Linked DNA regions of Homo sapiens. The protein of the gene in region 2 purifies or fractionates together with the protein of the main gene of each other region. This does not show direct contact. Each region holds a gene or a part of one and is shown on either strand. Other genes may lie near its edges.

Region 1 (7,219 bases), on a different chromosome or scaffold from region 2:
TAAACCAAGAAATGTGGGCAGAAGAATAGATGGTTAGTATACCTGGAGATGGGAGAATGAGATCTGTGAGCACCTTCAGCTGGAAGACCCCATCTTAGCTTTACTGAAGGAAGCCTGCCTTTGCAAGTTTCCCTGAAGGCACTGTTCTAGAAAGCCACAAGGCTCCTGTCGTCCTGGTTATCCTTTCCCCTGAGACACCAGAGAAGAACCACAGAACCCCTACAGTGAGTTTCAGACTGCATTCTGTCAGCCCTTCCTTGGGCTTACTATGGTGACAGGAGGTACTGGCAGTGCGGCCTCCTGTCTTCTGGTGTTTGGGGTTTTATCAGTTAACTTTTAGGATTATCATATGAAGTCTTGGCAGGGCCTGAGCCACTCCCTTCCGCTACTGTGAATTTGACACCTCAAAGCACCCTGGGACTCATGAGAAGAAATTGAAGGGGTGCCTCAACCACCACCCTGAGAAGTGACACCCAGTGCTGAGAGTTCAGTGGGGTCTTTGATGTCTTGGAATCATTAGAGTCTTCAGCTCTCATTCAAGGTCCCCACCTTGGCTTCATGTAGGGCTTGGCACCAGCCCCCTTCTGCTGAGTGGTGGCTACACCGTCAGACTAAGAATCTCACCTCTCTTAGATCTTATATAAAAAAGAGAGGGGGACACTAAACCTGATAACCCTTTCCTGAGCTTTCTAGGGCTGAAAATAAAGGGTTGGACTGGATTCTTTGATGTCTCCACTGTTAAGGGTTCAGTGGTTCCTTGAATTCTCAGATTCCTCAATTTGACTCCTGGTAGAGGAGCTCTCCTTTTTATTGAACTGAGGCCTATGTCGTCATGGTAAGAGTGAACATCCCTGAGAACCCATAGGAGGAAGTGAGGGTGGCCTTATCTGACCAAATGTGGTCTTCCCAAAAGTAAAAGCTGTGGCAGGCAGATAACTGCCCTGTGATAGATGGTCCCACATACAGTCCCAACTCAGCCTCTAAATTTGACTCATGAGAGGGTCTAAGATTCTTCCCTGATATGGTTTGGATCTGTATCCTCACCAAATCTCATGTCTAACTGTAATCCTCAATGTTGGAGGTGGAGCCTGGTGGGAGATGACTGGATCATGAGGGCAGGTTTTTCATGAATGGTTTAGCACCATTCCCCTTAACGATGACTTCTCATGAGATCTGGTCATTTAAAAGTGTGTAGCGCCTCCCCTGGCCTCTTGATCCTGCTCTGGCCATGTAACATGTCTGCTTCCCCTTCCCCTTCTGCCATGATTGTAAATTTCCTGAGCCCTGCTCCCAGAAGCTGAGCAAATGCCAGCATCATGCTTCCTGTACAGCCTGCAGAACTGTGAGCCAATTAAACCTCTTTTCTTTGTAAATTACCCAGTCTTGGGTATTTATAGTAATGCCAGAATGGACCAATTAGTACATTACTTCTGTTGACAAGTGATCACCACCCTCAGATTAAAACTCTCATTTCCCTGTTACCCTTGAGTGGGAACTGATGGGCACCTCTGTTTCACATTTCTGCCTGGGGTCTCTCAGAGCTGACAGTACTGAGGATTGTGTGGCTCCCACTAATATGGGGTGGGAGCCCCCTGCAGTCGTCAGAGTTCTTATCATAACATCTGGCACAACCTGGAAACCCTCCCTCTGCTGACCTCAAGCTGCCTTTTTTTTTTTTTTTTTTAAGAGACGGAGTCTCGCCCTTTCGCCTAGGCCGGACTGCAGTGGCTCTATCTCGGCTCACTGCAAACTCCGCCTCCCAGGTTCACACCATTCTCCTGCCTCAGCCTCCCGAGTAGCTGGGATTACAGGCGCCCGCCACCGCTCCCCGCTAATTTTTTTTTTGGTATTTTTAGTAGAGACAGGGTTTCACCGTGTTAGCCAGGATGGTCTCGATCTCCTGACCTCGTGATCCGCCTGTCTCGGCCTCCCAAAGTGCTGGGATTACAGGCGTGAGCCACCGCGCCCGGCCAGGCTGCCCTCTTTAATGGGGTCGTTCACTTCTCTGAGATGTCTTGGGGAGAGTGAGTACAACTCAACATGCCATGCTCAGGTCTCCCTGGTCTGACAACAAGAGTGGGCTCTATATGGCACTTCTTTCTGGTTGGAGTCCCCTCCTCATCACTCAGTGTCACATCCTTGCTTCCTGTTAGAGACTGGGCCTCTCTGTCGCATTAGACCTACCCCATTACACCAAGACCCTCACCTCCCTGAGACCACCTCCAGAGGAAACTAGAGAGCATCTCAGCTTGCTAGCTTTGCCCTGACCTTCCTATTGCTGGCAGCAGATGTGGGTCTTGGATGTAGCCCTCAACTTCTTTAGTCCCGGGAGAGGAAGTCAGGTTGCTCTGCATTTGTCATGTCAGCCTGGGACCATCTAAAACCCAGTGTCACCTCGGCCTGGGAACTGCCCAGCATGACTCCTCTTTTGGGTAGAGGTCCGCTCATTAATACTCAGAGTCCTCACCTTAACCCCAGTTAGGTTTTAGGTTGATGCCATATGAGCAGAAGCAGGGCTGCTTCCTAGGTTCAAGGCCCTCCCCTCCCTGAGACTTTCCAGGCACAGCTTTGCTGGGGCCTCCCAGAGCCGTCTTCAGGGACGAGACTTAGTGAGGCCACCTTTGTTAAGGGTAGGAGATGTTCTCTTCAGTCCACATTTAGGGCCCTCAAATTGATTTCAGTTAGGGCCTACACCCACCCTACGTGCAGAATGAGGCCTATTCCCTGCGTCCAAACCTCCTTCCCCCGCGACTGCCCCTCCCCCCACCCTTCCCCTGCCCTGGAACTTTCCAGGTGGAACATTGCCGGACGGCTTTACCGGAGCCTCTCAGGACCAAATGCAGAAGCGGGACTTAGTGGGGCCCTCTTTGTTACAGGTGGGGGTGGTCTCTTCAGTTTACACTCAGGGTCCTCACCTTGACTGCCGACCAGTCCTGAGAATTCACCCCTGGCTGACCAGACGCCGCACCCCCTACACTCGCTCGGGTCCTCGCCTCCAAAGCGGAAGTCAGGATGAGCCACATCCGCTCGGGTCTTTTTTTTCAAAGCGGAAGTCAGGATGACTCACATCCGGCAGCCCGTGGCGTCTGAGGGCTGACGGCTGGACGCTACCGGACGTCACTGTTCTAGCGTTGCTGGTCCCTTCGTCTCCACTAGGGGTCCTCACCTCAGTATCTAGCAGCCTGGGACGAATATGCGTGCTGACCCAAATCCGCCAGCCTCCAAACAATACCCCCACCTCCCTCAGCCCCCACTGTGGAAATCTAAGCGTGCCAAACAGGCCACCCCTGCCTGGGCCTCACAGGCCTGACAGCAGCGGCAGGGCTCTGTGAATGTGCCTTTTTTGGGGAGAGGTCTTCTCATCCGCCCTCAGAGTCCTCACCTTGATTCCCGTGAAAGCCAAGACTCTCTCTCTGCACAACTGGGGTCACCCTCTTCAGACAAAGGCCCTTCCTTCCCCGAGACTATACAGGTGGAATGAAGGGGATTCAGAGATACTTATTTTGGGGCCTCTCGGTGCTAACAATGGCGAGGGGCTCTGTTTGGCCCCCTCTGCTGGTGTTGCAAGGGGGAGAGCCCCCTCGTAACACTTAGGATCCTCACCTTGATTCCTGTTAGGGCGTGGGTTTTGTCTCTTTGACCTAGGGCCATTTCCACTAGTCCAAGGTCTTCACCTCTGTGAAACACACGAGGCATATTGATGGGATTTCTCCACCTCATAATTCTCTTCTGGGCTCCCCAAGGGTGACAGCATTGGTGGAATTTGTGGGCTCCTCTGTTCTGGGGTGGGTGGTTTTGAAACTGCCCCTATGAACTGTATAAAATTAATCAGGGAAGAGGGAAGGGAGATAAATGAAGATACGCCAAGCTTGCAGAACATTCAGCATTAATCATGAAGTCAGCTGCTCTCTGACCTGCTTCCTCATAGTAGTTTGGTGCCTATTATCCCAGAATCATGTAGATCCTGTTACTAGATTATAGTTGCCCTTAATTGCTCTATAGATAACAATTTTAACATAATGAAACTTTTTTTCTTTGAGATATTCCTTAAGGTCCTGCATACTGATGATTCTAATGACTCAGCTGGTCTGAAGGACCCCACTGATGCCAGCTGCTCTAAAGGACCCTACTGACATCAGCTGGTCCAAAAGACCCCACAGGAGCTGACTAAAAAAAAAAAAACGCAGTTTCCACATTCTGATGATTTCATCCCCTTTACCCCAACGAATCAACAACCTCAGTTCTCCAGCCCCTCGCCCTCCATGATCTCCTTGCAAATCCCAGCCCAGAACTCCTTGGGGAGATGAATTTGAGAGTCTCTTCTCATCTCCTCACTTGGCACCCTGCAATCATTAAACTCTTTGCTGCAAACTTTGCTGTTTTATTATAGTGGGTCTGTTACTTTGCAGCTGACACAGAAACTCGTTGGTCCTATAACAGTTCTCTTATTTCTCTTCAGGGTCCTCACCATGACACCTGGCCAGTCTTGGGGCACTCCATCCTCCACTGACCTGAGGCTGTTCCCATCAGATCAAGGTACTCACCCTCTGCCGACCTCTGAACTGGAAGTTGTGGTGAGCTACATTTAGCCAGGGCTGTTCTGGACTTTGAAGGGCTGACAGCCTGAGCTGGACTTTTTGGGACCCCACAGTTCTGGCTGGGTCCTTCCATCATCTTCATTCAGGGTCCTCACGTTCATATCTATCAGAGGCTGAACTGCATCTACTGACATGAAGTTGACCTTCTTAGGCCATGTCCATGAGAGGTCTGAAGATTAAATGAGTGGATGCTCAGCCTGACAGTTCTGTCTCGAGCTCTCTAGGTCTGAGAGCAGATGAGAGTCAGTCTATGCATAACCTCATATATTCTGAGATATTGGTTTCCCATGTCCTCTGAACTGGGGATCATCTTTCATTAAAGGCTTTCTGGGAAATGTCACATCCCTGCAAACATGACCAGTTTTTCTACTGCAAACCTTGCAGAGAAGGAGCCGTGTTCCGGGAGTGATGTGAGATAGGGAAGCTGAAGCACAAGGCAGAAGCTCCAGGACAGGTAGTGGGCTGTCAGAGAAAAAAACATGCTGATTTTTTCCATCTTGCTAGACTTAGATTCTCACGAAAATTCTGTTCTGACACATTTATTTTCTACAGGGAAGAGACTGTCCAGGATGATTTTGGGAGCTTCTGATCTTTTGAGATTACCTGATATTGCTTGTGTAGATGAACGTATTGACACCAGGTACTATTTTTCTTTTTTTTATTTATGCCTCTCATTTATTTTGGCATTCATATTGGTCTGGGAATATATTTGACCCAGTAGTATGGGCACAGAGTCCTTCTTTTTATTGCCTGAGATACATTTTTCAAAAATAGAGAGAAAAAATGAATGAAGCAACATGAGGTTAGCCTCAGAATGGGAAGACTGGAACAGTGTGGGATGTAGATTAATCCAGACTGGGGGTCTGGTTTCAGCCCTGCCACTTACCAGCTATGTGAACTCAGGCACATTACTAAACTCTGTGAGCCTCAGGCTCTGCATCTGTGAAATAGGTTTGATAAGCCCCTTCCTTGTGGAATTGGTGAAATGTGGTTAATGTATGTAAAGCACCTGGCACAATACTTGGCCCATATTGAGGTTTCAACATGGCAGCTATTACCTATGATTAACTTGATGATACCACCCATCCCACTGTGATTGCTTTTTCTTAATCCAACAGATGTCAGAGAATATGCAGCATTCTAGAAGAAAGAAAACCCAATAAGCCAAAATGCAGATTAGCACGAAAAATCAAGTAATATTTCCCCATTAAATGATAAATTATTCAATGTGAGGTAGACTTCTCCAGTTAGGTGCAACACAACGCATTTGCGTCAAGGACTAACAACTTCCTTCCCTCCCAGTGTCACTTCCATCTAAATCACCTTTATTTTCATTAATTTAACAAGCACCAAACACCTAGAACTTGCCTAGAGCTTGCCAAATTATGTACATGATAGCCTAATTTGAATGCTCCTTTTAATGAAATTGACTCTTAACTCTTCCAGCCCAGTGCAGAGTACCCAGCGGCTTCTTATCATTTCTTCTTAAGGGAGTATCATCCTTATTTCTCCGAAGCTCACTGGATACAATGTATATAAAGCAGCTAGTTTCTGCACTGTGTTCATCTGCACTGGGACAAGAGCATAGTCACTTTCCAGTGCTGCCCCTGGTGGAGCTTCTTTCCAGTTTTCTCCAAAGTTAAGAGCACTTTTCCATTATAGGCTTAGTCTCTCAACTCTGAAGCTTACCATCTGAGGGTCTTGCCCTGCTCACCACTCCCACAGCCTCCTCCAGTCCAGCATGCAGCCTCACTTAAAATTACCTCCCAGTGAGGGACCTGCAGTTTCCCAAGGCCCTAGCTTTCTTTTTCTCAGAGCATTTACACTACACACTCTCATCTGGAACCCTTCCCACTTTCTTACCTGCCTCCATCTTTTTTAACCTTGTCCTTTGGATCTGAGAGATACTTTCACCATGTATTTGTATGATAGCTGCTCCTAACGACTAAAATTCTTTGGACAATGGGTAAAACTTTCTTTTTTTATTTCTTCTCATCTCCTTCATCTCCAGTACTAACATTGAGCCTTCCAAAGAGCAGAGAATTGATTAATATTTAGGGAATAAAAGAGCCAATGAACAAGAGTACTAAATGAGTACAATTTAATTTATCTTACATTTTTGAAAAAGCCAAACAAATCCAGCTATATATCTTTTAATTTTTTAAAAAGAAAGGCTAAAAGGAATAAGGCAAATCAAGAATTGAACACATCTCACCTTTTTTTTTTTATTTCATGATTTTAACTATTTGAGTGTGGAGTTATTTCACATTTCCAAGAAAATACCTATTCTGATGCTATGTTATTTTGTGTGGATCACAGGGGGAAAAATCAAGGATTTTAACTTTTTTTTTTTTAACTAAAAACTCTCATTTTTTAAATTATTTATTTTTCTTTTACTTTAAGTTTTGCTATACTTGTGCAGATACATGTACAGGTTTGTTATATAGGTATACATGTGCCATGGTGGTTTGCTGCACCTATTAACCCGTCATCTAGGTTTTAAGCCCCACATGCATTAGGTATTTGTCCTAATGCTCTACCTCCCCTTCCCCCCTCCCCCGACAGTCCCTGGTGTGTGATATTCCCCTCCCTGTGTCCATGTGTTCTTATTGTTCACCTCC
Region 2 (8,227 bases):
CAGCAAACAAATTTATTAACATTTATTAATGTTAAGGCTTAATGTAAAAACAATGGCATAAATCCTGCAGGTAAGTAGGAAAACTTCAGAATTATCCATCTGCTGTCGATTTATCACTAGAGATTAGATTTTATCCTGAACGCATATTTTGGGAATATCTAAATATCTGTAATATGGTCTCTCCAGAATTTTCTTACATGATGTGGAAATCAAGAGCTACCTGCCTGAAGTTGATAGATTTAAAAATGATGATTAAGTATAATATTTGAATTTATGACAGGTAGCCAACGGGAAAACAATAAAAGATAACAAAAATTAGGAGAAAAAAGGGGTAGTGTAAATGATATGGATTTCTCAGCTTCAACATTCAGGAGTGAAATAAGTACTGCTTAAAGTTGAAAAAATAAGAAATGGAAGTATAAGCATTTAATTTGGAGTTATGAAAATAATCACCCAAAGAAATCAAGATAGAAATGACATGAATGCTGATGTCCACAGAGTGGGACCAGGTTGAGTGAGGGAGATTGTTTGCTTTCATTTATGCCTCTTTTTTTCTACTTAGATGTTTCATTTTTGTGTGCACACATTATATTTTTATTTTATTTTAATTTTTGAGACAGTCTCCCTTTATCGCCCAGGCTGGAGTGCAGCGGTGCGATCACAACTCACTGCAACCTCGACCTCGTGGGCTCAAGTGATCCTCCCACCTTAGCCTCTTGAGTAGCTGGAACTAGAGGTATGTACCAACACACCCAACTATGTTTTGTATTTTTTGTAGAGACAGGGTCTTGCCATGTAGACTAGGCTGGCCTTGAACCCCTGGGCTCAAGTAATCTGCCCACCTTGGCCTCCCAAAGTGTTAGGATTACAGGTGTGAGCCACCACGCCCAGCCTGTAATTTTAAATTGGCCAAAAAGACTATGTTCATCTAGGCAGCCTGCTCTTCTGCCCTCTAAAATATCCATTGCGAGCATTCTCTGCACCATCAGATGGCCTCCATGTCAACGTCTCAGCTCCAAACTTACAAACGTCTTCTTTTAAAACAGAGGAAGTGTCTGCCCACCTAAGGTTAATCTCTCCACCTGTGTGTGGATCCCAGCCACACCTATGTCTGCAGAAATTGCTAATTACCCTCTTTTTCTTCAGATCCTCAAACTCTCCTTTTCTGTGAGTTGCCTTCAAGCAGTGGGCAACATGCTCAGGCTACTCCCATCTGAAATTGAAGCCACCTTGACCCCATGACCCTGTCCAGCTTCCTCTATCTTCTCCCCTTTACAGCCAAATATCTCCATTTCCGACTCCTGAACTCACTCTGATATGGAGTCTTCATCACTGCAGTAAAAACGGCTTTTGCCAAGCTCACAGGTGGCTCCAGTCCGTAATCAGACTGTTACTACCTATCTTCATCCTACTTGATTTCTCAAAGCTTCTAACAGAGGGGATCACTCTTAAAACATTCTCTTACTTTTTCAGAACATCCCACCTTATCACTGTAATTTGGCAGATTTGTGTCCTCACACATCATTAGCATAAAATATTTCCCCTCACCATGAAGTATTTCTCACATCAAGTCATAACCTTGGCCATAACTGGAGTATTTGCTCCTCACAAGCCTCTCCACATGCAGACCTTCCTGCCAAAGGCTTTCTTGCTTCCACAGTCACATCCAGGAACAGGGGCAATCCCTTCATGTTGCTCCATGGGAAAGCCATCTGCAGAAAAGCCAGCTTGCCGCTGGAATTTTTATTGGATGTCTTCAGAGAGATATGCTACAGAACCAGTTTCAGTGAATGGGCTTCCACTTACAGCAGAAAATTTAATCCTGTGAACTCAGTCACTTGTTTGAAACTCAATTTGGGATGATAGTGGATCTTTCTCAATTCATTAGAATTCTCTCCCTTTTCTCCTCTGAGTAGATTTCTAGTGAGGGCAGTGGTGGGGTGAGGCTTGGTTATCATCCTAGCATTGTCTTGTGCTTTCTTCCCTGTGGGCTCTGCTGGGAGTATAACTGCTTGATCTACCAGCACAAGCAATGCACACTGATCATTTCAGGAGAGGTTGAGGGTCCTCTCCTATTGATGCGGCCTGACGGGCACTGGTCTGATGACTTGCTGAAAACTAGCTGCATCTCCCTTTGCTGACAAGCTGACCACCCCTAGCCTCATTCACCTTGGACCCTGGTGCTTGGTAGGCACTTCACCATTCAACTCTTTCTTGGGAACCTTTTGGATCTCCTCTAGGCCCTGTGAGATATATGTGCGTAAATGCGTGTGTGTGTGTTATGTATATATACACACACACATATGTATATATATATACACACGTGTGTTAGGAGCAGAGGAGGGAGTTGTATAGTTGGTTATCAAAGCTATAAAAGGCCCTTTCTATGTTCATTTCTAAAGGCCAACGCATACAGGCTCAGGGCACGATTGGGCTGTCTTCTCTCAGAAACTCGGGCAGAGCCAAGTCCTTCTGCTCTTAGACCCAAAATCTACCTAGCAATTTCTAACAGCCAACACTTCCCACCCTGCATCTTATTCCCTACTCCCATAGACTTTCCTAGTTATCACCTAAATTCTCCTCTCACCTTTTCTCTCAGAACGTCTCCCCCAGCTTAGAGAGGAATTTGTCTCTGTAGGTGGGAGGGTCTTTAAAAAAAAATGAGGCCGGGCACAGCGACTCATGCCTATAATCCCAGCACTTTGAGAGGCCGAGGCAGAAGAATTGCTTGATATTAGGAGTTCAAAACCAGCCTGGACAACAGTGAAACCTTGTTTCTACAAAAAAATAAAAAATTAGCCTGTCGTCGTGGTACCCGCCTGCAGTCCCAGCTACTTGTGGTTCATAGTCTTTGAATCTTTATATGCAAAGTCAACTTTTTAAGAATCAAAAAAGAAAAATGCATGTATCTTTTATTCCAAGCACCTGGTTTTTGCACAAGTACTCCATCTTTCAGACTCTATCGCTTTTATTATAATTAAAAAAATTGTTTGAAATTCAGGCTCTACTTGTTCTCCTTTCAAGGCAATGAAGCCCATGAGTGGGAAGAAGACTACAGGGCAACAAGAAAAAAAGTGAGAACATTATTATTATTATTTTTTGAGATGAAGTCTCACTCTGTCACCCAGGCTGGAGTGCAATGGCTTGGTCTCGGCTCACTGCAACCTCTGCCTCCTGAGTTCAAGCGATTCTCCCGCCTCGGCCTACAGAGTAGCTGGGACTACAGGCACGTGCCACCACACTTGGCTAACTTTTGTATTTTTAGTAGAGATGGGGTTTCACTACATTGGCCAGGCTGGTCTCGAACTCCTGACCTCATGATTCGTCCGCCTCGGCCTCCCAAGGTGCTGGGATTACAGGCGTGAGCCACTGCACCTGGCCGTGAGAACATTCTTGATTTAAAATGCACATATATAATCTAGGTATGCGATCATAGCTTCTTTTACTTGCCATGGTCCCCTTGCCAAAGAATTCATGAAAGGAGAAATCGTAATTTCTCCACCTTTTAAATAGCCAGATTTCTGCAATCCGTCCACCCCCTCTAGATTTTCAGCAATTATCTGTGAAAAGGAGGAAAGAACAGCAAACTAGAAGCAAAATCACAAAGCTTCAAAATTTCTTTGTGCCTCCGTTTTTATGTAGTTTCTTTTGGTATGGCAGGAAAATGGGCAATATTGTTTTCATACAATAGCTGTATTTTGTTCCAGCATGCACATAAATTACACAGTTAACCTTATCTGATCTTACCTAAAGTGACCTTTTTTTGCTTGCTTATTCTGATTCATGCATTTTTACATCAAAGTCTACATTTATTGAAAGAAAAATTTCATAATTTATATCATTTAACGTATTTATCTTACAGTGCATGTATACCTGGAATGGGAAACGTAACAATAAGCCAGCCAGCAGTTAGAGTACGTAACTGTGGGAAATGTAAAGTGGAAAAAAATATATAGAAGGAAAAAACAGCTCTAACAGGGAGAGAGGTTTGGGGCCCTATAGATAAATAGGTACATTTCCACTCCACCTCCGGACATCTGCCGGTTGGTGGTAAAGCTGTTGATTTTAGGAAATTCTAGAGACAGAGCGTTGTCGGGGTGTTGTTTTCCTACTGACCAGAACAGGAAGGCAATGCCTGGATTAACTAGAGACCTAATAAACTGCGGGAACAAGCCCTACCGCTGCGGGGCCAGGGCCAGCTTCGAAGGCTGCAAGCCTCACGGCAACACGGAGCCAGGTCCTCGTGTGACCTTACTGTCTACTGCTGCTATGTAAGGGGACTGGCACTCCCGCCCTCCTGAAGGCGCGGAGACCCCGACGGCCTCGGAACGCTTCGCTCGGGCACACTGAAAGCAGCGCGAGACGCAGCTCCCAACACTCTAACATGGAGGCCGGCTTTTGTTTGTTTTGGCCCCGCTCACACACAGGCGTCTCAGGGCGGAGACCACAGGCCCCGCGGCTGCGGGCGGCTCAAGGTCCCCCGGGACGCCCCCCTAGCGGACTTTGGCCGCCGCGCCCGGCTGCCTCCCTTGCCCGGGCCCTGCCCCTCTCGCCTCTGCTCCCGGCGCCGCAGCTGACCCGGCGGGGGAGGAGGACGGCAGGAGCGCGCGGCGTCACAAAGCGAGGACAGAACGCCCGGGGTTCCGCCGAGACTCGGTCGTCCCAGGCCAGCTCGACTTGCAGTCCGCCCTCGTGGGGCGGGAGACGCCCGACGCCCGCCCACCTCACCCCCGGGGTGCCCTCCGTGGCCTCACGGGGACGCAGCGTCGCAGCGGCCCCGGCGCCGCAAAGCGTCTTGGGAGCGCCGGCTCGCGCCGGAAGAACGCGAGGGCGCGCGGCGGCGGCGAGGTTATAAAAGGGAAGAAGCCGGCGGTGGGCGGAAGTGGGCGGTTCGGCGGCTCTGGGCGCTGTTGTTTGGTCTTTAGGCCTGCGGAGGGGCGTTATCTGGAGGGCCGCGGGTGCAGGCCGCAGTGACAGGGCCGCTCGCCCCGCTAGTCCTGCCTGTCTCCCGGTGCAGCTGTGTTCGCGGCCTGCAGGCCCAACATGGCGCAGGAGGTGTCGGAGTACCTGAGCCAGAACCCGCGGGTGGCAGCCTGGGTGGAGGCGCTGCGCTGCGACGGCGAGACTGACAAACACTGGCGCCACCGCCGGGATTTTTTGCTTCGCAACGCCGGGGACCTGGCCCCCGCTGGCGGCGCTGCCTCCGCTAGCACGGATGAAGCTGCCGACGCCGAGAGCGGGACCCGAAACCGGCAGCTGCAGCAGCTCATCTCCTTTTCCATGGCCTGGGCGAACCACGTCTTCCTCGGGTGCCGGTGAGTGAGGCAGCGTCCCTAACCAGCACGCCTCGTTTTGTGTGCCACCTGCAGACCGGGGCCCGGCGCCCTCCGCGGGACCGGCCTCGGCGGGGAGGGGAAGTTGTGAAGCGCGGGAATCCGCCGGCCCGGCTGCCCTCTAAGGGGGAGAAGGGCGTCCCTGCGAGGAGCCGACATGATTCCCGGACGTCTGTGTGCCCGGTGGTGTGGGCGCAGCTGCTGGTAGGGTTGCTTGTGTTAGGGAACAACGCTCTTGGGGACGGGTGCGAGATTTAAGATTAGTGAGGAGGTGCCCTGCCTCCCAGACCCTGGGGCACTTGTTTATGGGGTTCCAGGAAACAGTTCTTGGCGGTTGGTTCACTTTCTTGATTGCAGCCAGGAAATGCAGTCCCTGTGGCCTGTTTTTTGCACAAGTAGGACCTTAGAAAAAACACTTTTTAAAAATGACTTTTCCTTCTTTTTCAGATACCCTCAAAAAGTTATGGATAAAATACTTAGTATGGCTGAAGGCATCAAAGTGACAGATGCTCCAACCTATACAACAAGAGATGAACTGGTTGCCAAGGTGAAGAAAAGAGGGATATCGAGTAGCAATGGTTAGCAGATCATAGATGTGAACATACATAGGAGTTTAGAGCATAAGTTTGATATAATTAGGAATTATTGTTACTAATTTTTTTAACAAGCCAGAATTTTTATGTTATTAATAAGTAATAAAGTTGGAATGTTAAACCTAAAGTATATATCTGTGTCTTTAGGCTTTGAATTTGATAGTTTGCTTTGACTGCTTTAGATTTTGAAGTGTCCACTGTTGTCTGATGCTGTTATTTTTTTAATATTAGACATTCATGATGTTATTCAACACTGTTTTAAGAAATTAATGACTCCACACTTTTTAAAGAAACGATTAGTCTTGAAATGTTTTCACTTTGTGCCTTTATTTTAATGTGTATTTGTCTCATCACCCGTTTTGTACGAGGTATTCTTAGTCACATATCTATGTTTTTCTTCTTTTTAGAAGGGGTAGAAGAGCCATCCAAAAAACGAGTTATAGAAGGAAAAAACAGTTCTGCAGTTGAGCAAGATCACGCAAAAACCTCTGCCAAGACAGAACGTGCATCAGCTCAGCAGGAAAACAGTTCAACGTGTATAGGGTCGGCCATCAAATCAGAGAGTGGGAACTCAGCTCGGAGCTCTGGCATCTCCAGTCAGAATAGCTCTACAAGTGATGGAGATCGATCTGTTTCCAGCCAAAGCAGCAGCAGCGTTTCCTCTCAGGTAACAACGGCAGGATCTGGGAAAGCTTCTGAAGCAGAAGCTCCAGATAAACACGGTTCTGCATCATTTGTTTCCTTGCTGAAATCCAGTGTGAATAGTCACATGACCCAATCCACTGATTCTAGACAACAAAGTGGATCACCTAAAAAGAGTGCTTTGGAAGGCTCTTCAGCCTCAGCTTCTCAAAGCAGCTCAGAGATCGAGGTGCCCTTGTTGGGCTCCTCAGGAAGCTCAGAGGTAGAATTGCCACTATTGTCTTCCAAACCTAGTTCAGAGACAGCTTCAAGTGGGTTAACTTCCAAAACTAGTTCAGAGGCAAGTGTTTCATCATCAGTTGCTAAAAACAGTTCCTCATCAGGCACATCCTTACTGACTCCCAAGAGCAGCTCTTCAACAAATACATCGCTGCTAACTTCCAAGAGCACTTCCCAGGTAGCTGCATCACTACTAGCTTCCAAGAGCAGCTCCCAGACCAGTGGATCTCTGGTTTCCAAAAGCACTTCCTTAGCAAGTGTGTCCCAGTTGGCTTCTAAGAGTAGTTCTCAGACTAGCACCTCACAGTTGCCTTCTAAAAGTACTTCACAGTCAAGTGAGAGTTCTGTCAAATTCTCTTGCAAGTTAACCAATGAAGATGTGAAACAGAAGCAACCTTTTTTCAATAGACTATATAAAACGGTGGCATGGAAGTTGGTAGCTGTTGGTGGCTTTAGTCCCAATGTGAATCATGGAGAGCTCCTAAATGCAGCTATTGAGGCTCTGAAAGCAACACTGGATGTATTTTTTGTCCCACTAAAAGAATTGGCAGATCTGCCTCAAAATAAGAGCTCTCAAGAAAGTATTGTTTGTGAATTGAGGTGCAAGTCTGTGTATTTGGGCACTGGCTGTGGAAAAAGCAAAGAAAATGCAAAAGCAGTTGCATCAAGAGAAGCATTGAAGTTATTTCTCAAGAAAAAGGTGGTGGTAAAAATATGTAAAAGGAAATACAGAGGCAGTGAAATAGAAGATCTAGTACTCCTTGATGAAGAATCGAGGCCTGTAAACTTACCTCCAGCACTAAAACATCCTCAAGAATTACTATAATGTGTCCAAAATATCACTGCATACAATATCTGGTATTTGAAGAGAAAAACTGACTTTTGTATAGTATAAAACACAGGCTTTCACAAATTTTGTATTGCTTTTTTTCCAGTTTTGCAGAAAATTTACATTCTAGTTCTCTTCACACAGTAGCAGTTGTAAATAATTTATGAATGACAGTACACATTAAAAGGTATGCATTAGCAGCATATTAGTATGCTGTTTTATTTGCTGAAGAAAATACTGTCTTCTATTTTTAATGATACATTAGGTACGATGTGTAGTTCGGTAGAGTCCTAAAATTTTTGTACTACTTTCAATTTGGTGAAAATGTATTAAGTTGTCTACCATGTTTTCTTTTCTAGCTGAATAAACCACATCAAAGGAAAGGGACCACAGTATTTGAATGTTTGAAAGTCTGTAAAGCTTAAGGTTTTAAAAATGTTGCCCGTAATGTTGAACGTGTCTGTTAAAAAATAAAAGAAAAAATAGTTGCTTCAAACTATTTTTATGAGAAGTTGTAAGCATTTTTTAGATATAAAGCAGTATAAAGTACT
Region 3 (6,929 bases), on a different chromosome or scaffold from region 2:
CCAGAATGATAAAAAATGACATGACTATTTACTGTGAATGTGATACAGTAATCATGTCTCTGAAGTTCAAGTATGATTAATCTTGATTACATACGGTTATACATTCTGCTTGAATTAAAGGAAAAATACCAGTTCTAGAATCCTCTGACATTTGTTTATTCTTCCCACAACTTACTTTACTAAAATTCTAATCATCTTTGAAAGATTTGGCTTATCAGGCTTGTGCTGGCTTTTAGCACCAAGAGTGTCATGTTTGAGAGGTGTGGCTATCTATGGAAACAAAGATGAAATTACTCAAACCTATACTATTTTGATGAGTCGCTCATTTCAAGGTATTAATAAGTAAGTATTCCTGTTTTTGGAATGCATAAATTGTGAAGAGAAAAGAATGGAGAAAGGTGCCAGAGAACTGGTTTGGGATAATTTATTTAGAGGGTTTTTTGTTTTTGTTTTGTGAAAAGGTATAGCTTGTATGGTTGAAAGAGTGCTTGTTTTTTGTTTTTTTTTTTAAGTCTCTGCAGTGAAGTTGAGGATGACTTGCTCACTAATTTCATAAGTTTAACAAAATTAAAAGTTTTGTTTGACTACATTATTCTTTGTATTTAGGTACCTAGTAGAACTGGGTTGTATCAAGCCGCTCTGTGATCTCCTCACGGTCATGGACTCTAAGATTGTACAGGTTGCCCTAAATGGCTTGGAAAATATCCTGAGGCTTGGAGAACAGGAAGCCAAAAGGAATGGCACTGGCATTAACCCTTACTGTGCTTTGATTGAAGAAGCTTATGGTAAGATGCTTTGGTTGAAGAAGTTTATGGCCAAGAATGAATTGGGTCATAGATAGAGTTCAGTAAAAACAATACTACTACTGCTAGGCACTGGATGAAAAGAGGACTGTTAGGAAATTGCTGCTTCTGCAGACTGGATATTACTTGCATATGTATTTAAGATGTCAGTTTATAATACTAGCTTTCAGATGTAATCCCAGCAGTCATTTCTGTGCTATTATAAAATACTTATGAGATACAAATAATCTTTCTTTACATCAAGAACAGAGATATATGACAAAATATAGTTTAGGAATATATAGTTATGGAATTTCCAATATTTATTGAAGTTTTCAATAAAGATTTTCCTTTATTCTTCATTTTAGGTCTGGATAAAATTGAGTTCTTACAGAGTCATGAAAACCAGGAGATCTACCAAAAGGCCTTTGATCTTATTGAGCATTACTTCGGGACCGAAGATGAAGACAGCAGCATTGCACCCCAGGTTGACCTTAACCAGCAGCAGTACATCTTCCAACAGTGTGAGGCTCCTATGGAAGGTTTCCAGCTTTGAAGCAATACTCTGCTTTCACGTACCTGTGTCAGACCAGGCTACCCAGTCGAGTCCTCTTGTGGAGCCCACAGTCCTCATGGAGCTAACTTCTCAAATGTTTTCCATAATACTGTTTGCGCTCATTTGCTTGCCTTGCGCACCTGCTCTCTTACACACATCTGGAAAACCTCCGGCTCTCTGTGGTGGAATACCCTTCTAATAAAAGGGTAACCAGAACGGCCCACTCTCTTTTACGGAAAAATCCCTAGGCTTTGGAGATCCGCACTTACATTAGAGTTATGGGAATATACACATATTAATGTGGCTCCCTTTTTCTTGTGGGGGAATAAAAGAGGACTCCTCCTCATTCCCTTTAACATGGGGGAAAAAACTGACATTAAAAGATGAGACTAAATCTTTATCTTGAATTTTACACAACTACTTACGACAAGGGAGATGTTTAGACCTGTTGTGTATACTTCAGAGTACTTTTCATGAGTTCTTCCACAGTGAACCCTTGGATTACCTGGTGGCTTTTTCTAGCCAGATTTGCATTAATCCTTACTGAGATTGGATGGTTTTCTTTCCTCTATTGGCGCCATTCTTCAGATATTAAAGTTAAACCATCCACTCCCTCACCTTCAGCCTTCAGTGAATGTGCTTTCTAGTTGTCAGGAATGCTGAAGAATTAACACTTTGACTCCTAAATGTGATACTGGTTTGTAGATTCCCTTAGAGCAGAAAGGAGAGGGGCACATATTAATTTGTATCGCTTTTGCTTCTCTTTGGTCTTTTGTGTCTTAGAATTTGGAAGTGGTTCATTTCTGTTGCTGGTATGAGGATTTCGAATACTTAGTAATCGAAAACCATATCCTGTAATTTAATAAAAAAAACTAAGGACGAAAAAACCCTCCAATTTTCCCAAATGCAATCAGTGTAACTAGGGGCTGTGTTTCTGCATTAAAATAAATGTTTCAGGCTTTGTGGTCCTGATCAAGGTCCTCATTAAAAAATTGGAGTTCACCCTAGGTGCTTTTCCCCTCTGTGACTGGCAGATAACACATACTTTTGAAAGTAACTTTGGGATTTTTTTCTTAGGTGCAGCTCGATTCTAATCTTTTCATGCTGCACACGATTCCTTTAATGTAGCATCCTTATCTGAAAGAAATAACCATCTTCTCAACATGACCTGCTTAACCCAAATAAGAACAGTGATCTTATAACCTCATTGTTTCCTAATCATTTTATTTCATCTCCTGCTAGTACTGTGCCGCTTCCCCCTCCCCCCACACAAAATAAAAACAGTATCTGCCTTCTGGCTCATTTAATGATGACTGCAATCTGTACCTGCAAATGGCGCTTCCAGTACTGTGTTCAGTGATCCACATTTGTGCTTGGACTGGAATGAAAAAATACGCTTAATTGCCAAGACAACTGCAAATGAGTTCAATACGACTTCTCGGTGCTAGTTGGCCATCTTGACTCAATGTTGGGATACACTACCAGAGAAGATTTTTTTGTTGATGTGCTGTTCAAAGTGAATTCTGAAGGAAAAGGTTGCTCACCTCTGTTTCAGAGCATACCCTTTTAAACCTTTTTAGACTTGTCCTCTTCTAGAATTCATTATAACCCCAAAGTGTAAAAACTATTTGGAAGTTGCCCCTGACAAGCTATTATACATCTCTGGTAAATCCTGCTGAATGTAAGGGATATTCAGAGCTTTTCATACCTCATCATGATGTTATTTAAGCAGCCAACTTATGTGACCTGATTTAAACTTTTAAAAAATCCACTTCATTCAAACTAGAAAGAGTCAAAGACAAAGGACATTTATCAGCCAAGAGTGTGACGCATTCTTCGCATCTAGTCTGTAGTAGTGTCTGTGCTCTGGGATGGATACCGTCTGATGTCTGTTTGTTATTGATGGCGCAGCCACTGCAAAACTAGTCAACTCCCATCTATAACTGTTACTTTTTCTAGTGCTGCTTTGTGCTGAGAGAACATTTTAGTTTACTGCACTTGACCTGTAAAAGACTGATTCTTTGTAATTTTAGGGATAAATTAGGTGGTTAATTTAAAGAAGAAATTTCAATGTTGCCTTTACATCACATTAAAATATAACTTCTTTCAGAAGGATAATAGAAGCACTGATTCATAGTAAAAATCTTGTTTTTAGCTTTGACTTTTTTGTGGCTGTTTTTTAAAATTGTAAATTACTAGTAACATGTCATTTCTATAGGATGTTTTAAATTATGTACCTTCCATTGGATAGTTAAAATAATTTCATTTTATAAGCCAATTTGAGTGGGAAAGATACAAAGCACACAGTTGTCTCCCCACATTAGGAAGAGTAGTGTGCATTCAGACATTCGGAATTTTTGCTAGTAGTTGGAGATGTTTCAGTGAGTGAATTAAAACAAAGTCTATTTAACTGACGTGATCTATTTTGTGTCTAAAACAGAGGAATTTATCTTGTCCTAGAAGTTCATGAACTATAAGATCTAAGTTTTTTTTTCTTTTTTAACAATAAAATGATTTTTTCTTAAAGTATCAAAGTTGGAATTGGCTAAAAGTGAAGTAGCATAACTCAGATATGTTGGAACTTGGTACTGAAGCAGGCTTTTTGGTAACAGAAATGACATTTTAAGGGGTAACTGTATATCCTGTTTTTAGTTCTTTGCCTCTCAGATTCTGTTAACTTAGTTTAAATTCACTGAATACCCTACCACTAAGGCGTTGCTCATTACAAAAGCATGTTAATTTCAATACAGGAAAACTCTTTTGTAGTTTTATATATGGATTGGGGAAAGTGACTTTGTTTTACTTTTCCTTTTTATTCCCCTCCATCCTCCAAACTTCCAATCTATATTATTTGTAATGAGAACTTTGGTGGGGGAAAAAAAGCATTAAGAGAATTTTGGATGTAAAGGCATCTGGTATCTGATGGACCAGCAGGTAGATGTGGTTGGATTGAGAAATTTTGGGTAAGGTAGATGATAGAAGAAAGAGATTTTAGGAGACACAGTTCTCTGTGGAACACTTTCTTTCATGTTCCTGTAACTAATTGATCAAGACCCTTTTAAACGCTTATCTTTGTCAGTTCCGCTTTTGAAAAAACTATTGCCCTAGGATTGTTTCTTCCATATGACAGATGAAGGTTATTGGCTCTGAGTCATTTTTGGCATTATCGTCACAGATAAAAAGATTGGCAATTAATCTCATAAAAAATCTGAATTATTCCAGATTGCTGCCGATTTTTGCCTAAGAAACAATATGTAAGTATATTTTATAAACCAAACTTTGTCAACCAATTCTATTGTACGTCTACCCACAGGCAACTTTGAATTTACTTCTCTAGTGCTAAATAAACATTTCAGCGATTTAATCCCCCAACTTGGGGGATGCATTATGAAAAGGTTTTCCTGGAGTCAAGGGGTTTTTCTTTCTCGCTAGTTTTGTGAAAATTTTTATATCAATAGGCAAATCATTATAACTTTTTAGGGGTTGATGGTTTTTAAGTATATTGGAAATTGTGGTGTCTAAGGATGATGTTCAGTGAAGAAAAGGGATCCACTTTTAGAAACCAGCATTGTTTGCTTTCAACTTTCATACTGTATGCTAACTCCTACGTTCCAAAATGTGCTCATTTGCAGACACAGGTATGCCTATATACATGGAAGTCTCAAATCTGAATTTTTATCCATCTCAATATGACCATTTCTCTCTGTTGTGAGCTGAACAGATTAAGTATATATCTGCCAGGTTGGGAAATATTTTGGTCTATCTTTTCCTGTCATCAGAACTTAATTTAAAAAAATTATCAAAGGTCAGATGTGACTACTACAGTAAGTTGGCTATCATAAAGAATATTCCATAAAATGTTTTATCTGCCATACAAAATTACTGGGTTTATGGCCGGATGTGGTGGCTCATGCCTGTAATCCCAGCAGTTCAGGATTACAGGTTATATACAGGTTATAACAATGGATACCAGGACATCAGAATATCTGATAAAGCAAATATTTATATGCTAATTTAAAATATCAAATTGCTACTGGACATAAAATACATCTGGAAGCTTGGGGTAAGAAGAAAGAAAAGAAGTGTTCCGTTCTGTTTTCAACTAAGGGTAAACGAAGTCCCAGAGTGTTTTCCCTGTAGGTCAAATTAAGGTAACATGTCTTTATTTGATCATCTATTGTACACCAGATACCTGGCTAAGGGCTTTCCTTTTTTCTCATGTAGTCTTCCAAATGTTCTTTGATAATTGTCACTATATTATAGATGACAAAGTGAAGACTTACGAGAAATTACTTTGCCCCAAGGTTACAACACTTAGATGGCTGTCCAAGGGCGGGGAAGAGCCCTGCAAATTCTGTGTCTTGAAGAAAGCAGTGGCCACGCAGTAGTTCCGTGCCCAGGATCTCCCAGAACTAGACTTGGCAACCACAGCTGGGCCAGCCTTTTTTGTTAGACCATTCTTCCTGACTCCTGCTTACCATCAGCACCCTTAAAATGACGAAATCAGGCTTAAGTTGCTTTTAGGTTACACAGACTGGAGTGTAGGCCCTCTCAGGCCAAACATCTTTCCTCTTCTGTGGTGCTAAAATTCTGTATGACCAGACAAGTATGGTAATAGGTTTTTTTTTTTTTTTTTTTTGTGCAAATGATTTTGTGTTTAGTAAAATAATGGCTAAACACATGGATCCATTCAAACGCACAAATGTGGAAAGTATTGACACGGAAGGAAAGGCTTTGAAGAATTACTGCCTCAGGAAGCAGTGCCATGGATGCGAATTTAACACAGTCTACTTCTTCCTAAAGGAATATCATCCCAAGGAATGTCAAAAATTAAAATCACCTTTTAATGTACTGGTTGTTGAGTGTTTCTGCTTTACCTCAAGTCATTCTGACCACTCTACATCCTGCTTCAAAGTGTTCTGACACTTAGATTTGGAATGGCTCTAATGATTCTTTGTACTTGAATGTGGTCTGTCAGGCCATGGGTGAGTGCCTTGCACATAGTAGACATTCAATAAATACTAAATGAAGGAATATGCATGCATCTTTGTGATGTTAGTAAAGGGTGCTTGATAAAAGAAAATTCAAAGGAATTCCCTTATGCTGTTACTTGAAACCAGGATCAACATCTTAAGCAAATGTCTCAACGTGTTTTATATGCAGTTACTTTTCAGAAGACATGATTTGACCTGAAGTTTACAAAATCAAACATTGTCATAGCAGAGGTCTGGTATTTAAAAACAAACAAAGTGTCTTAGAAAAGCTAGTGGCCGGGTGCGGTGGCTCATGCCTGTAATCCCAGCACTTTGGGAGGCCGAGGCAGGTGGATCACGAGGTCAGGAGATCGAGACCATCCTGGCTAATATGGTGAAACCTCGTCTCTACTAAAAGTACAAAAAACTAGCCGGGTGTGGTGGCGGGCGCCTGTAGTCCCAGCTACTTGGGAGGCTGAGGCAGGAGAATGGTGTGAACCCAGGAGGCAGAGCTTGCAGTGGGTGGAGATTGCGCCACTGCACTCCAGCCTGGGTGACAGTGCAAGACTCCATCTCAAAAAAAAAAAAAAAAAAAAAAGCTGATGGGTATATTTTACA

The links. The genes of interacting proteins can lie anywhere in the genome.
Region 1: the proteins of CDKN2AIP (region 2) and MAGEB2 purify together in Homo sapiens (co-immunoprecipitation; 2 studies listed by BioGRID and IntAct, with this or other methods). This does not show direct contact.
Region 3: the proteins of CDKN2AIP (region 2) and KPNA1 purify together in Homo sapiens (co-immunoprecipitation; 4 studies listed by BioGRID and IntAct, with this or other methods). This does not show direct contact.

The regions. Positions count from the first base shown.
Region 1 is NC_000023.11:30,211,352-30,218,570, reverse strand, and holds the start of MAGEB2 (melanoma-associated antigen B2), read right to left. Parts: upstream 3,009-7,219; 5' UTR 2,916-3,008; intron 43-2,915; exon of another isoform or gene 1-42. UniProt on the Homo sapiens protein: May enhance ubiquitin ligase activity of RING-type zinc finger-containing E3 ubiquitin-protein ligases. Proposed to act through recruitment and/or stabilization of the Ubl-conjugating enzyme (E2) at the E3:substrate complex.
Region 2 is NC_000004.12:183,439,755-183,447,981, forward strand, and holds the start of CDKN2AIP (CDKN2A-interacting protein), read left to right. Parts: upstream 1-4,881; 5' UTR 4,882-5,043; coding exon 5,044-5,315; intron 5,316-5,780; coding exon 5,781-5,911; intron 5,912-6,333; coding exon 6,334-7,673; 3' UTR 7,674-8,227. UniProt on the Homo sapiens protein: Regulates DNA damage response in a dose-dependent manner through a number of signaling pathways involved in cell proliferation, apoptosis and senescence.
Region 3 is NC_000003.12:122,421,394-122,428,322, reverse strand, and holds the end of KPNA1 (importin subunit alpha-5), read left to right. Parts: intron 1-606; coding exon 607-785; intron 786-1,150; coding exon 1,151-1,338; 3' UTR 1,339-6,421; downstream 6,422-6,929. UniProt on the Homo sapiens protein: Functions in nuclear protein import as an adapter protein for nuclear receptor KPNB1. Binds specifically and directly to substrates containing either a simple or bipartite NLS motif.